Regions from separate parts of the Homo sapiens genome. Here region 1 is linked to region 2. A link means that fine-mapping ties the variant in region 2 to the expression of a gene that starts in the linked region. Tissue or cell type: tibial artery. Region 2 holds a variant in brackets; the other region holds the start of a gene. All regions are shown on one strand. Distances are from middle to middle.

Region 1 (2,619 bases), 92 kb after region 2:
GCAAAAACCCAACGGCTGCAAAGGACCCCAGGAACCAGCAGCTCTGACCCTTTCTTCCAGGCTGCTGTAATCCTGTCCTGAATTTTTAAAACCCTCCCATTGGAAATGCAACTAGTGCTCCCAGCCTGGTCTCTCCAGCCCTAGGGCCGATGGAAAGGAGACCCATCGAGGTGCCTCCCTGGAGACACGGACGACCCAAGCTTCCCTCCTCACTCCCCACTCCCCTATCGACCTGGCAAACATCCTTTCCCATCTCTTCAGGCTCGCCTAAGACCATGGCCTGAGGGGACTCCAGTGACGTTCCCAGTGCCAGCAGACAGAACTGCGCAGACCCCGCGGGACGCCATCCTCCATCACCATCATCGCCGGCTGCCCTCCACCCCCAGCCCACTCCACGGCCAGAGGTGCATCTCCGGCCTCCAGACACGCACAACAGGTGGCGTCTGCCCGCCCTCCCCAACCACACCTCCCTGGCCCTCCACCTGCGCCCCAGTCCTCCAGCAGCGCTCGGCCGGGGAGCCTACCTTTGAGGTTCTGGGGGTGGCCCCGCGGCGCGCGGCTCGGGTTTCCTCGGGGCAGCGAGGGGATACTGGAGAAGTTGTTACCCATGGCATCCGGCCCCAGGAGGTTCGGCGCTCGCGGGTGGGGGCGAGGCCGGGCAGGCGCTGAGGTGCGGTGTGCGAGTGTGCGCGCGCGGGTGCGCGCCACCGGGGGAGGGCCCTGCTGGGGCTGCAGCCGGGGGCGGGCGGGCAGCTCCTCAGCTTCCTTTCTCTGGACTTCGCGGTCCTTGGCGGGTTCCGCCCGCCACGGGTGTCCTGGCGCAGGCTGGGCTACCTGCCTCCCATGCCCCGTGGCGGGAGCGGGGGCCACAAGCAGGGCCCTGGGCCGGGGCCGGGGACGCCCGGGGCTCCCCGCTTGCTCCCCGGGACGCTAGGGTTCCGGCTGGGGGTGGGCGGCGCGGCGGCTCCGGCGCGCTCCCCCGGGGCCATAGAGTCAGGGTCGCTGGCGTGGGCGTTCGGCGGCTCCGAGGCAGGCTCGGTTACCGCCCCGCGGAGACGGCCGCGGCGGCGATGTGCGTGGCTCCCTCCCGCCCGCGGGTCTGCGTGGAGCGGGGCTCGGCGGAGCGCGGGGCGTTCTGGGCGCTCCGACGCAGCTGGTGTCCCCCGACCGCCGCGGTCCCGCCCGCGCCGGGTCCCTCCTGCGACCGCCGCCCCCGCCCCCCGCCCCGGCAGTCTCCAGGATTCCCTCGCTCCGGTTGTTATGGTGACAGCTGCGCCGGTGAATGAGCGTCTTAGTGACACGCGCGCGCCCGCTAGGCCAGATGTGGCCCCGGGGCGCGCCGCGTTCCCGTAGCCGCAAGCTCTCGGCGGCGCGGGTCGGGGTAAGACATCAGGCGAGTATGGTGGCACCCGGGGCTGGCCTTATTCCCAGCACGGAAACATGGAACTTGCACTTGAAAACAAGGGGAGCAGGGCCGCGAGAACGCCGAGCTCCCCGGATGCGGGGGCGGGCGAGCCAGCACTAATGTTCGGTTTCCCTAGCTCCAGGTACCGGGCCTGGCGCAGAGTGGAGAGCCCAGGGAAACATGTAAATGAGCGAGCGGATGCTTGGATAAAGTAATTGAGATTAGAACCCCGGCACTTGACCCTCCGTTCTCAGCCAGGCTAGGGGCACTAGGGCAAGGGTTCAGAGCAGGAACCCCGGGCAGTCTCACTGATGCACAGATGCCACTGAGGGCCTTTGAATGCCCGCGGACCAGACTCACAAGCCTGGAGCTCTGGCCAAGCTGAGGGAACAGATCTCCGGGACAGATCATCAGAAGACCACCAGCTCTGAACTGAGTGGTTCTGTTAGCTATAACAAGGTGGGGGAGAGGAGCCTCTGCAGCCTATGGCAGTCAAAGAAGGCTTCCTGGAGGAAGGGGGTTTCAGCAAGGGCCCTGCTCATGTGGCTAGTGCCTTCCTGTAGCTCAACACTGCACCAAGAAGCCTTCAGGAAGGGAAACAGAAGTCATTCTTCTCCTTCCTGGACCCGGGGCATCTCTCCTGGTCTATCAGGGATGGAAGATGTTCCAAGGTTCCCCCCAGGGAATCAGACTTCCTGCTCCTCTAAGTCATCTCTAGCTCCCTGCTCTGGCTTCAGCAACTCAGATCCAGAGTCCAGTGAAGACATGGGTGGGCAGGGGGACATCTCATGTATCCTTTTCTGTAATAAAGGTTCTTCCCCCAAGTCTCCATTTGGCAGCTCCTCATTATCTAGGCACAATTCGTGTCCTGACATTCCCTGACTGCCCCAACTAAAGGACCCCCTCCACTGTCAGTCACTTTCCACAATATTCCATTTTATTTTCATCATAGCTTTTATATGGAACTTGTTTACAAGTAGCCTTTCCTCGTTTATCTTCTGCCTCCCTGCTAGAACATAAGCTCTGTGAGGGGAGAGCACAGGTCAGTCGTGTTCACCAGGGTGTCCTTACCCACTGGGGGAATGCCTGGCATGTGACAGATTCTCAGAAAATAATTGTGGAATGCATGCTTCCCACTGTGGGCCAGGAGGCTCCACTGAGATCCCTGGGGGCAGAGCCTCCTGAACCACCCTTTATTTTCCTCTCCTACTCTC
Region 2 (2,755 bases):
ATTTCTCATGCTCTCACAAGCCAACAGCATTACATGCATTAACATATGTGTATTCAGTTACTCACATGTGCCTATACACAGTACGCCAATCTCATAGAGTAACTACCTCATGCTCACTCATCTACACACATTATCTTATCTATCAAGCCTCCTGGGCTGAGGTCTAGGCTAGGGGCTGTGAGGCCCAGGGGTCTCCAAACTTGGGTAAGCATACTTACTAAAGAAAAACAATTCAGATGTCCAGAACCTGTCCAAGGTCTACCGAATTAAAATCTCTGGAGGGGGGGTCCAAGAATCTGCACTTTAATAGGTCCTCCAGGTAAATCTAACGAAACCAGCTCAGTCTCACAGAGCTGGTTCAAAGACCGGCACTTGGAAAGCATGAATACCTGCTCACTCTGGGGTACAAAGGTACCAGGAGACACTTTGTGAAAAGATTTCCGGTCAAATTAGTATGGAAAAACTCTACACCAAAACCACCATCACCGTCTCCTTAATCAAAGTGCATATTAAAGGCTCTGAGAAGTCTTCCAATAAAGAATCTTCCTCCCTTCTTTTCTTAACTCAATGCACATCCCCCCAGTCCTTTCAAACCCTGTGCCCCCGAGAAAAGGCAGGCCCAGAACTCTGCAGCCCCACTTCCCCCAAGGCTGCCTGCTCAGGGATTCCCCCGAGTCCCCCAACCAGACACCACCCTGCACCACCTGACTACTGACATTCCAACCTTTTTTTCTCATTTGGACTCACAAACTTCCTTAAAGGTGAGGACCTTTATTTCCATTTTGGAGAAATGGTAACCGAGACTCAAAAAGTTAACTGCTGGGGGAAACCTTTTTTTTTTTTTTTTTTTGAGACGGAGTCTCACTCTGTCGCCCAGGCTGGAGTGCAGTGGCACGATCTTGGCTCACTGCAAGCTCCGCCTCCTGGGCTCAGCCATTCTCCTGCCTCAGCCTCCCGAGTAGCTGGGACTACAGGCGCCCACCACCATGCCCCGCTAATTGTTTGTATTTTTAGTAGAGACGGGGTTTCACCGTGTTAGCCAGGATGGTCTTGATCTCCTGACCTCATGATTCGCCCGCCTCGGCCTCCCAAAATGCTGAGATTACAGGCGTGAGCCACCGCACCTGGCCTTTTCCTCTCATTTTTGAGTGGTCAGTGGGTTGTGTGCTTCTGGACTGTTTATGTATCTGTGAGACTATGGGTTGATCTGATTCTGGGCATCAAACTCAATAATCCGC[G/T]CTTTCCCTCGCCTCACCCCCCAGGTGAGTCTCCCAGGTGACATATAAGGGCCACTGACAAGATGACCAAGTCCCGCCCAGAACTCACCTTAGGTGTCTGTGATTCCTTAGCAACACCATCATGAGCCTGGAGGAAGGGGAGCTCGCCCTTTGTCTCCTACCCGGATCGTCCCCGCCTCCAGGAAAGGCATACGCCCAGGCGCAGCTGCGGGCACTCACCGAGGATGCGGATCTGCGTGATGGTCCCGTGCAGGCCGAAGAGCATCCAAAGCGGCTGCGAGGCGTCCACGCACAGCTGCATGCCGGCGGCCGCGCCATTGTGGCTGAGGTGCAGCTCGCCGTCGGCGTTGACCACCAGGCCCAGGATGTCGCCGCTGTGCAGGGGCCCGGGCACGCGGCACACGGCCCAGAATTCCTTGCGGTCCACCAGGGCCTCAGGGCTGAAAGGCAGGTCGGCCGGCCGCAGCGTGCCGGGGTCGCACGTGGTGACGCCGAACGACAGCGCGCCGGGCCGCGCGCCACCCGAGCGCGTGACCTTGACGAAGATGGTCTCGGCCACGCGCACGGGCCGGCTGGTGAAGACGAGCGCGCGCTCGTCGCGCCCGTGCTCCACGCGCGCCACCGTCTGCTCGTCGAGGATGCGGACGTGCGCGCCGGCGCGCAGGGCGTGGAAACGCAGGTCGCCGTCGAGCTGCGCCGGCAGCGCGCGGCTGTGCTGCGAGTTGAGTGAGTTCTGCGGGATGGGGCAGCCGGCGGCCGGCGCGGCCTCGTCGCCGTCCGCGCCCGGCACGTTGAGGTCGCATAGGCTCACCGAGAGGCGCGCGTCGTCCGCCTCGCGCCGCAGCGACGGCCGCCGCAGGGCGGTGAAGGAGCGCGGCCGCAGACAGTCCGGGAGCACCAGCTCGCTATCTGCGCGGGAGACACGGGGCAGTGTCACGCAGGGCTCTCGGGAGGCGGCCCCGGCGCGCCCCGCTGTCCGGTCCCTACGCGCGCACCGTTACAATCCCGGATGGCTAATGGCGCACACGATGCTTGTGACATAAATTAGCGAACACAGTCAAGAAACGACTCTTGCAGGACATCTGTTTAAGCAGAGGAATAGGTGGGGGGAAGCACCGAAACTGAAACCATGTGGATGCTTCCAAATGCTCACAGGTGCTTGCTATATGCATATGTGTACTTCCTCATTTTCTACAGTAAACTTGTATTCCTCATAATTTAAAATTTTCAAAAATTTAACTCCTGGGCTCCTTCCGTCTTATCCCTAGCAGCTAGAACAGCGCCAAGCATTCTGTTGACAAACAGTAACCGTCTGTCGAGTGCACTGACGAAGGCCTAACATCCTGGAAAGCCAGGGAGCAACCACCCCCCAGCAAACACACAGACACCCTCTTTGCGTACATTGTCTCATCTAACCTTAACAATCACCTTTTGAGGCTACCATTGCCATGTCAGGACACAGGCTGAGAAGTAGATCTATCCAAGATACCCTTTTGAAAGTGGCTTAACAGGGAATC

The links. PIP is the estimated chance that this variant, and not a neighbour inherited with it, causes the effect.
Region 1: NEURL1 starts here. The variant in region 2 is fine-mapped to the expression of NEURL1 in tibial artery (GTEx, PIP 0.90).

The regions. Positions count from the first base shown.
Region 1 is chr10:103,492,378-103,494,996 of GRCh38, reverse strand. NEURL1 (neuralized E3 ubiquitin protein ligase 1) reads right to left here and starts at 1,292. Exons shown (of 6, transcript NM_004210.5): 1 at 525-1,292. The coding sequence starts at 609. NEURL1-AS1 (NEURL1 antisense RNA 1) reads left to right here. Exons shown (of 4, transcript NR_120675.1): 3 at 262-436. RefSeq lists silencers at 614-713, 794-923, 934-1,083 and an enhancer at 398-947.
Region 2 is chr10:103,583,928-103,586,682 of GRCh38, reverse strand. NEURL1 (neuralized E3 ubiquitin protein ligase 1) reads right to left here. Exons shown (of 6, transcript NM_004210.5): 4 at 1,458-2,147. Among named protein-coding and RNA genes, the nearest start is that of NEURL1-AS1, 68 kb to the right of the region's middle. RefSeq lists a silencer at 2,210-2,269. The variant G/T (reference allele first, on the strand shown) is at 1,239.